Linked DNA regions of Homo sapiens: region 1 is linked to region 2. Evidence: fine-mapped expression QTL. A gene starts in region 2. The other region holds a variant in brackets. All regions are shown on one strand. Distances are from middle to middle. Region 1 has its middle 22 kb from the start of PROK2. Region 2 holds the start of PROK2 (prokineticin 2).

What was found.
Region 1: its variant is fine-mapped to the expression of PROK2 in whole blood (INTERVAL, PIP above 0.99).

What each region holds. Positions count from the first base shown.
Region 1 is chr3:71,804,569-71,809,949 of GRCh38, reverse strand. No RefSeq gene overlaps it. Among named protein-coding and RNA genes, the nearest start is that of PROK2, 22 kb to the right of the region's middle. The variant G/A (reference allele first, on the strand shown) is at 2,982.
Region 2 is chr3:71,782,338-71,787,718 of GRCh38, reverse strand. PROK2 (prokineticin 2) reads left to right here and starts at 2,571. Exons shown (of 4, transcript NM_001126128.2): 1 at 2,571-2,762. The coding sequence starts at 2,667. It overlaps LOC105377156 (a long non-coding RNA gene), which reads right to left and starts at 2,329. Exons shown (of 4, transcript NR_199161.1): 1 at 2,196-2,329; 2 at 1,972-2,083; 3 at 1,686-1,782; 4 at 1,292-1,502.

The DNA of each region.
Region 1 (5,381 bases), 22 kb before region 2:
AATTACAAAATACAGTGAAACTGACTTCCTTAATATTGCTTAGATCTATCCACCTGGCTTCATCCTCATTCTTACTCCCTTAGACCAGGCCACAGGGTGACAGACACACTTTCAGATTTGCTAATTTCAATCCATCTCCACCCTGCAGCCAGGATGAACCGTCTGAGCTCTTCATCTGATTGGGGCTGTCCTAGGCTTGATGTTCTTTATAGCTTCTCTCAGGGAAAAAGACTATCGGACATTAACCTATGTACCATTGCAGATTCTTTCAATTTCTTCATTTCTGAAGAAGCTCAGCTTGGCCATGGATGAACATCCCAAGCTGCCTGGGGCCCAAGTTGAAGCCGTGGGCCGGTTGAGTCTACACACCAACCTCTGCTTTGAGTCATCCCTCCACTTCCAGAATGGGATGAAATGTCGCATGATGGAGCATGACATCTGGCTTCCTGGGCAGCCTCCAAGCACCAGATGCTGCAACCCAGAAGTGTGGGGAAATTAACTCCCCATGGATGCTCCCTAAATAAGGGAAAACAAGAGGTAGAATGAGCTGGGCAGATTAATTCCTCCTTCTTTCTATTTTCATGGCCTACTAAAAGACAGGGTTTCTTCCCACAGCCTTTCCAGAGCAGTCCCATGTCCCAGGCAGACTCACCTGCTAAGCCACCTGCTATGCCTCTTTTCAGCTCCTTGTAACATGGTGGCCCCACAGCAGTGTGTGACAGTCTCCTCACCATGCTTGGCTTCTTTATTTGCGATACTTCCCTTTTTAACTTACCTTTTAAACCTTGGACTTGCACCTCCGGAATTGTTAGCACTTTAGTTTTTGACTCAGGCTCTACTTTCTGGAGGACCTGGCCTTAGACAAGAGCTGAACTTCTTGGCCACTGCCTGCATCACTGACTTCATCTCTCTTTCTATGTACTGAACCCTTTCCTAGCTACCACCGCCTGCAGTGTCACAGATGTGACACATTCTTTCTTTCCTCTTCCAGGCCTTTGGACATGACCTCTCACCGCTTTCCTGGGGAAATCTTAGGTCTCACCTGGGAAGCATTTTTTTAGACGACTGTTGCATCAGACTGGTTCAGGTACCATGTTTAGATGCCCATGGCACACTGTGCCTTCCTGGGAAAGGGCTTATCCCTCTTGTTTACTTGTTTGTCTTCTCCACCTGGCAGGAAGTTATTCACTATGTACTCTAGCACCTGCTTCAATGCCTGACACGTAGTGTCCAATAAATATTTGATTGGATAAACGAATACATGTTTTCAAAAGGAGACAAATTCCCTGGAAAAGGTACACAAGCAAGAAAATTTTGCAAGTGTTCAATTTTTGTCTATGAAAGCTTTAGTATACTTTTTAAAAAACTGAAGCATATTACATTCCATTTTTTTCTTTCTCACTATGAATCTTCATAGAAGTAAATACTTTAAAGTATAGTTTAATGGGTAGGGGTTTGTTGTTTGTTTGTAAAAATTTATGGAGTACAAGTATAATTTTGTTACTTGTATAGATTTTGTAGTGGTGAAGTCAGGGCTTCTAGGGTATCCATCAACCCAAATTATGTACATTACGCCCGTTAAGAAATTTCTCATCATACACTTCTTTCCATACCCCATCCTTCCAAGTCTTCCATGTCTGTCTTTGCGTACTCTGTGCCCATGTGTACACATTATTTAGTTCCCACTTATAAGCGAAAACATGTGGTATTTATCTCTCTATTTCTGAGTGGTTTCACTTAAGCTGATGGTCTCCAGTTCCATCCATGTTGCTATGGAAGACATGACTTCATTCTTTTTTGTGTCTGCTTAGTATTCCATTGTGTATACATACCACAGTTTCTTTATCCATTCATCTATTGATGGAAATGGTTAGGTTTCATGGGTAGGTATAAGTCTGGTTCCAAAACTAGACCTTTATGTTCAAATCCCAGCTCTTCCACTGACCTGTTTTGGGTTTAGTGTGTGTGTATGTATGTAACTTGACATATACCTGGTTTCCTCATGTGAAACATGAAGTAAATAATAGTCTCCACCTCATAGGATTGTTGAGAGAGTAAATAGCTAATATAGCTGAAGGGCTTGGCATATGTTTTGACACTGTGCTGAAGAAGGCATTGGCTACCATTACTATTATTATTCGAAGAAGACATTTTTAGTTTCATCTCCTACATAATTTTGCAGCCCACTAGGTAGTATATTTCTGGCTGTAAGGCTTGGAAAAACCCATCCTAAATGACATAAAAAATAAGGTGGCTGGGCATGGTGGCTCAAGCCTATAATCACAGTACTTTGGGAGACCGAGGCAGGTGGGTGGCTTCAATTCAGGAGTTGGAGACCAGCCTAGGCAACATAGTGAAATCCTATCTGTTAAAAAAGTACAAAAATTAGCCAGGTGTAGTGGCGCATGCCTGTAGTCCCAGCTACATGAGGGGCTGAGACAGGAGGCTTATTTCAGCCTGGGAGGTTGAGGCTTCAGTGAGCCCTCTTGCTGCCACTACACTCTAGCCTAGGCAACAAAATGAGACCCTGTCTTAATAATAATAATAATAATAATAATAATAATAATAATAATAATAATAATGAAATGGCTGGGCTCAGTGGCTCATGCCTATAATCCCAGCACTTTTGGAGGCCGAGGAGGGAGGGTTGCTTGAGGCCAGGAGTTTGAGACCAGCATGGGCAACATGGTGAAACCCCATCTCTATAAAACACTTCAAAAATTAGCCAGACGTGGTGGCACACGTCTGTAGTCCCAGCTACTCAGGAGGCTAAGGTGGGAGGATCACTTGATCCTGGGAGGTCAAGGCTGCAGTGAGCCCAGATCACACGACTGCACTCCAGCCTGGGCAACAGAGCAAGACCTTGTCTCAAAAATAAATAAATAAAAAATAAGACAGTAAGGAAATGTATTATCTTACCTAACTGGAAGGAGTGGCACCATCAGTAGCTGAAAGATGTCGTCAGATAACTGACTCTCTCC[G/A]TCTTTCTCATGATGTTGTAAGCCTCATTTCCAAGTGCCTCATAATAACAAGACAGTTGTCAGTGGCAACTGGAGCTACATACTTCTTTGTTCTCAACTACCTGGTCAAAAATGGAAAAACCACATCTCCAAGTGTGTAATATAAATGTTTCCTTCATTTTGATTGAACCAGTCCTAGTCACAGGACCAATGAGTCATGCAGGCAGGTGATGGGGGAATGGCACATGCCAATAGCCTCCTTAAGATTCACTCCTGGCCTGGCGCGGTGGCTCACGCCTGTAATCTCAGCACTTTGGGAGGCCGAGGTGGGCAGATCACGAGGTCAGGACATCGAGACCATCCTGGCCAACATGGTGAAACCCCGTCTCACTAAAAATACAAAAAATTAGCCGGGCATGGTGGTGGGTGCCTATAGTCCCAGCTACTTGGGAGGCTGAGGCAGGAGAATTGCTTGAACCGGGGAGGCAGAGGTTGCAGTGAGCCGAGATTGTGCCGCTGCACTCCAGCCTGGCGACAGAGTGAAACTCTGTCTCAAAAAAAAAAAAAAAGATTTACTTCTAGAGTCTCGGGTCACATTCTTCTAAGCTATACTTGGTCAGAATCGGAGTTGTGTTAGGAAGAAAGACACAAGTGAATGGATGCGGGGCAATCAGTGTTCACCAATGTACTATTGCTCTCAGAAAATATGGAGATGCCTCTTTTTTCATATTTTAAAAAACTTCTCAATTTTTAATTTTTTTTAAGTTTTAAATTTTTGGAAATAATTGTTTTGTTTTGTTAGTTTTTAGAAAAAGGATCTCACTCTGTTGCCCAGGCAAGAGTGCTGTGGCATGATGACAGCTTACTGCAGTCTCCGACTTCTGGGCTCAAACAGTCCTTCCGCCTCAGCTTCACAAAGTGCTGGGATTACAGGCATGAGAGAGGATGAATTCTAACACATTACATTGTGGTTAGAAACTATGTTACCAGATATAAGAAATAAAATAAAATTACATCTTCATATGTATATTTTATATATTTATAGCTAGCATTTATTGAGTGATTGCTTTGTGCCAGATCTGGCTTTGTGCCAGATAGTCACTCAGATACTATTAAGTGATTGCTTTGTGCCAGATACTACCCATCATTTCCATCAGCCTTCACAAATACCCTTATTTATTTCCTCAGAAAATACTTATGAAGCCCCTACCATACTTCAGGCACTGTCTTGTCACTGGGAATATAGCAACAGCAGGAAAAGACCAAGACCCAGTCCCTCATGGAAACTACATTCGAGAAATAGGAAACTGTGGCTGAGAGGGATTGAGTGAATTGCCCAAAGTTACACAGCTTGAATGTAGCAGAGTCGAGATTTGAACTTCAGAAGTCTAATCTAACTCCAAAGTCAAGAATGGGTGTATTAGTCTGTTCTTGCACTACTATAAAGAAATACCTGAGACTGGGTAATTTATAAAGAAAAGAGGTTTAATTGGTTCATGATTCCTCAGGCTTTACAGGAAGCATACTGGCTTCTGCTTTTGGGGTGGCCTCAGGAAATGTACAATCATGGCAGAATGTGAAGGGGAAGCAGGCACATGTTACATGGCCACCCCAGGAGGAAGAGAGAAATGGGGGAGGTGCCACACAGCTTTAAACAACCAGATCTTGTGAGAACTCACTCGCTATACTGTACCAAGGGGGGATGGTACTAAACCATTCATGAGAAACCCGCCCTCATGATCCAATCACCTCCCGCAAGTCCCACCTCCAGCATTGGGGGTTGTAATAATTCCAGTTCTCAGCCAATGGCAGGCTTCCTTCTTTCAAGCCTTGACTTTTCAGGGGAGAGCTCTCTGGGGCCTGGAGGAGGCATTGCTCTAGGGGTCAGGCACCATGCCCCACAGTGGCATCACTGCTTGAGAGCACCCAGAACAATGAAAGGCAGCCTGTGAGCCAGGGGAGGGTCCACTCAAACCAAGGGTGTATGGAGCAAACTGCGTAAGCATTGAGGCCCCAGGAGAGATTTGCACAGGAGATGCAGGTGCCCAGTATGATCAATCCCTCTCCCCAGACCTCCAGCCATCATTTGCAATAACCGAAGTTAACATTACCTGATGCTTTGCTTCTGGGGAACCAGTGTGCACAACCTCCTTAAAAAAAATAAGGGTTTGGCTGGGCTTGGTGGCTCACACCCATAATCCCAGCACTTTGGGAGGCCAAGGCAGGTGAATCACCTGAGGTAAGGAGTTCGAGACCAGCCTGGCCAACATGGCAAAACCTCATCTCTACAAAAAATACAAAAATCAGCCAGGTGTGGTGCTGCACACCTGTAATCCCAGCTACTCGGGAGGCTGAGGCAGGAGAATTGCTTGAAACTGGGAGATGGAGGTTGCAGTGAGCCGAGATTATGCCAATGCACTC
Region 2 (5,381 bases):
CAGAAAAGACTTATATCAGCATTGGCTGAAATTGTCAGGGGAGACCAAATAATAAGGCTTAATAAGAGGTAACCCTAACAGAGCTCCCAGTCTGTTCCAGGCACTGTGATAAGCATTTTGCAGGTATTATTAAATTCCATAGGGGTTGTACCCCATGAGGTTGGTATTTTATAACCATTTTACAAGACCGGAAACAGAGGCTTCAAAAGGTTGTGTAACTTGCCCAGTGGTCACACAGGATTCCAATCCTGATCAGCCTGTCTCACAAACATTGGGTTCTATAGACGCTCCTAGATTGCATTTTCGTTTAAGCTGAGCCTTGATGGTCTGCTGGAATATGGTAGGCTACACTTTACACACACAAGGCTCATTTCACCTAATACAGTTATGCCTGGGCAGAAGTGATCATGTGGCAATATCAACAGGTTACAGTAATAGAAAAGAATCAATAAACTACTGTTTCATTTCTATGTCATTGTTGCTAAGTTGTCCCAACTACCTTTTTTAATGGACTAATCCAAACTCTTTTTTTTTTTCATTTTTCCCTTTATAACAATTGAAGTCAGACTTCATTTTTCAAACTTGGCCTCAGATACAAAGATGACATATCAAGAGCCTTCATTTCTCTCCTAAAGCATTAAAGCAATTAAAATTTCCAAAAGAACATGAAACTAAACAACCCTATTTTTAAGTGTTTCCAAACTTATTTCTTTTTTTTAAACTTGTTTCAAAACAGCCTTATGAGGACTGTTTTCCAAACAGCTGTGTAAGAAGCCAGCCACTTTTGAAATCTGATTTTTCCTGTGTAGACATATCATATTTTCTATGCTTGAAGAAGCAGGGAATACCCAAGCTGGCATTCAATAGTAGCGAATATGAAATAGACCATTAAAAGAAAGTCATAGGAATGTTAAAATCCATGTTGACTGGTTTTTACATTTACCCGGCAGCATTCCCGAGCTAGCGTTGGCATGGAGACTGGAAAAGGAAACTTTCCACAAGTCTGTCACTTGCTACTGTTTCTACTTACTCCACTGTGAGTCCAATTTTAACATTTTTTTAAGTTGAAAAAAGGGTTTGACTCCTTTTGTGTTTTCTGTTCAAGGCGTTTTTTAAACATGAGAACACGTGTGAAAAAGGTTTTTAAAAATCAGCCAAAGATTGGGGTTTCCAAATATTCAGCTGTTTAACATTCAGATAATTGCCTGCCTTCCCCCCGCTATCCCCCACATTTCGTCTGAATGCTTTGGCACGGGGGAGCCCCACAGTCTGAAAGTAACTCTGTCCCAACTCTCCTTACTGCATTTATTAAAGAGGCTGAAAGACGCATCTGCTTTTCAATAGTTTGCGGTTCTTAAGAGACCAGGAAAGCCAGAGGTTCTGACTATTCAGGAAGAAAGTTGGGTTTCCCAAAACGGGCAAGCAAGTTCGGTGTGGTCACATCTAGGTATTCTTGACGTCATTTTTGTTGAGGGAAACAGGCTGCAGTTTTTGGAGCCAGGCTAGGATGAGAGATGGAGGGCAAATCTGTCACTTATTCTTTCCTGGTGTGCCTGGAACCCACTAGACACTCAATTCATGTTTACGTGAATGAAGGAATCACAATAACGCCCTATCGCATCTGTAAAACCGAAGGGTGATTTTCCTGGGCTGGAAAGTTTAAGAAAGAAGAGAGAGCTGCGTACCTAGGGCTTAAGGGGCCTCAGGCTGGCACTCGAAACCAGGCGTTCTCATTTCCCTTTGGCATCACCCTGAACGGCTGTGCCTGGAGCTGGCGCGGGGCTGAAGAGGGGAGGAAATACATGTGAGGAAAATCAGAGGAGAGGGTCGGGAACAGATGTGGGCATAAAGGGAAGGCCTCTGACTTGAAATAAACAAATAGGAGTCCCGCAGCTGGAAGGACAAATCCTTTCACGTCGCGGGTGATGTGGGATTGGGGCGATTTTGCTCTCCCTTTGTTCTTTCCCCTGCCTTCCACGTTTCCAGGGTATTTGATTGATGTCTGTCTTCTCTGTTAAGTTATTCCACCGTGAGGAGAGAGCCGGTGGCAGTACCTGGCACGCAGCGGGCGCCCAGTATAGACCTGCTGAACAAACGAATGGATTCAGGGGCTGCTGTGTCCCCCTCACCCACCCCCCGCCCCCTATGTGTCCACAGCGCCCCGCACGTAGTAGGCGACCCCTAAACATCTGTACAGCAAATGATTTGCAAGTTTTCGGCGCTGAGCACGTGGAGCTTTGGAAACCAGGACAGCAAATGAGTGTCTCGGAGACCACAAAAGCGGTTCCGGCGCGTGCGAAAGGCGGTGGCTGGGCGACGGCGGAGGGAACGGCGCAGAGCGGGGCGCCCCGCCGGGAGCGCTGCCTGCGTGGCGCCCGAGGCGGGGGCGCGGGGGGCCGCGCATAGCACGTGCTCGTCTGGGAGCCGGCCGGGCCGAGGCGGGCGCGCGTGTGCGCGTGGGGCGTGGGGTGTGTGCCCGCGCCGTGCCCCCCGCGTGTGCTGCCGGGCGGGCGCCGGCGTGAGTCACGGCGGGGCTAGCCTTTATAACGGCCCGGAGGCTCGCGGGAGCCGCCGCGCCCGTCCGCCCGCCGCTCCGCGCTCCACCCAGCGCACCCGGGCCCCGCGCCCCCAACTGCCTCCGGCGGCCGCCCAGTCCCGAGGGCGCCATGAGGAGCCTGTGCTGCGCCCCACTCCTGCTCCTCTTGCTGCTGCCGCCGCTGCTGCTCACGCCCCGCGCTGGGGACGCCGCCGTGATCACCGGGGTAAGCGGCCCGGGCGCACCTGTCTGCCCCTGATGCGCGCCTGGGATGTGCCCAGGGGGCTTGGGACGGGGACCCTGAAGGGCAGGCTAGAGGCAAAGGGAGGGTCGCCCTGGGCGGGGACACCTGCCCCTGTCGCCCCTTGGTGCACTTGGGAAAATACCCAGATCCAAAAGCAGCAGACGGCTGGGGACACTGGGCGCGTCCTGGAAGAAACAGTGACAAGGATGTCGCCCACCACCTTTATTACCACCTTCTCCCGCTTACTTCTCCCTCATCACCCACGGCCTCACTCCTCGCATTTTTCTTCTGTTAGGCTGAAAGAAGTTTCTCTCTGAGTCTTCTCAAGTACTTTTGGAGGCTCTCCAACCTCGAACCTTAAAATTTGACGGCCCCTTCCTGAAATGCAAAGGACCAAGACGAATTCCCCAAGTGCCCAGAGTCTTAATCCTACAGTCAAAGAGTTTGCTCCCCGATGCGTCCTCCGCAGAAACCCTTTGAAATCGCTTGGTCCAGGGCCATGTGAGCGCTTTGAAAAGCAATTGTGGGAGCTTCCTTCTGGGTTCCGGGGCTTTCCCCCGCGCTCAGGGTCTTGAGGTATCCCCATAAAAGTTTTAAATTTCTAATTCCTGGCAAAGCACCTCCAGTGCTCCAGCATAATGATGGAGTAGGTTGCTGTGTAGATGTTTAAACTTAGAGACGATGTTTTCATCTTTTCTGTAAGTAGGAACTAGTTCAGTTCTCTCCCACTCTCAACAATTTTGTGTGGATCTGAAAAAATTGGGTTTGCAGTACAATACTAAATAGTCTAGTTTACATTAACAAGGCAAAACTGCTATCATTTCCTGGTTGTTCAACTTCTTTACTGTTTTTTAAGTGAGGAATTATTTCACACCTTCATTAAATTACTTCAAATATTTAAGTGCACATAATGGGATTTAAATAAAACGTCTATGTTTGAAATGTTGATACATAGATAATATCATTTGACTTTAAAGGAAGTATCTTTGTCTTGAAAAAATCAAGCTCTATTTTCTCTATATTAGTTATTAGGTTTATAGAATTTTGAAAGTCCTTTTGCTATGACAGCATTTGTATATATCCAACAGATATTTAACTGTAAGCTCTGTGATATTTATTAGAAAAGAGATTTTTTCAAAAAATTACTTGCATAGCTTTGCCAGTCCATGTGGTTGAGAAAAACTTTTTGCAGGTCTTTCTAATACATGAGAATTGAAACATGATTGGATTTTTTTCTCCCTCTTCTCCTGCTGGCTCATTTAAAGTTTCTCCTAATCCTCTGAGCCCAAGATCCCTTTGCAATATAAGTATCTTTTTGTTCCATTCACAGGACAACACTATCTGAATAGATTTGCAATGGGTTAAGGATGAAGGGCATTAGGAAACAGCTGTCTAATTAAAAATATATAAACCTATGCAACTCTTTGTAAATTTTCCAAGAACTGAAGCTTTTGTTACAAAATAAAATTTTATCACATTGGCTGTCTATCTGTTAGAGAGGCTTAGACTGGGCTTATTATATAGTTATGTGTGCTGTTTTTGTTGTTGTTATTTTAACTCAGTGTTACAAAAAGAGAATTTTAAAAATGTCTCTAAAGCAACAGGGCAATAAAATGTAGTTATGTCTCCATGACAGGAACCATCTGGATTCAAATGAAAAACTCAGTAACTTATCAAGATACATTGTGTATAGCATGTTAAACATCCAGGTGATTGAATTTTAAAAGATTTTGGCTGGATTTTTGATTGGTTCATAAAAAAAAGCTCATGGGGCCTCAAAATTCGAGGTATTGAGCATCTGTTGAAATAAAATGCTGGCTAAAACTTTCACCTGACATCCACAGTTTTTTGGGTAGTGTATGTAGGTATTTTGAAATTGATTTATATGCCCACATAGATTTGTTAAAACTATATTGTAAAAGATCATTGACTAGACATCTTATTTATGGGATGTAATGGCTACATATACATGATTTCTGGCATGCAGATAAAAATTGGAAAATTGAAACATTTACATATTGTCCTATAAAATCCAAACACCTCAAGGTGAAATTTTTAGCTTTTATCCAGATACTTTGTTTAAATAGACTGAGAAATAAATTCTAATGAGGGAAGTAAATGAACTTTAAAGCAAAATAGTTGGTTACTTTTAATGAGAAATAATGTTAAGAATGTACCCATATTTTTATATCTTGAGAAGTTATGACTGTCCTCAAAACTAAGAATTTTGAAGGACTGTTTTAGTTGTTTCCACTAATTGTACATTTAAATTTGTGCCTAGATGATAGAGGTTTTAGTTTCTTACATATATAGTACAGGATGTTTTTATCTTATCACTACCAAAACAGATTACTGCCCACGGTTCAAACAAAGCATTCTATTTTTTGTTGGTTCTAGGAAAGAATAATAGTTCTTCAGATCCATTTTCATGCAAATAGATTTAGATTTTATTATTTATTTCTATTTACTAGAGTATGGAAATTCCTCCATAGTTGATTGTTTCATTGTATGTATTTACAACTTTTATATTGAAAGCAGGTGACTTGAGTAATTACTATTGACAATTGCACCTGTTACTTGCATTTCTTAATTTGATGGATC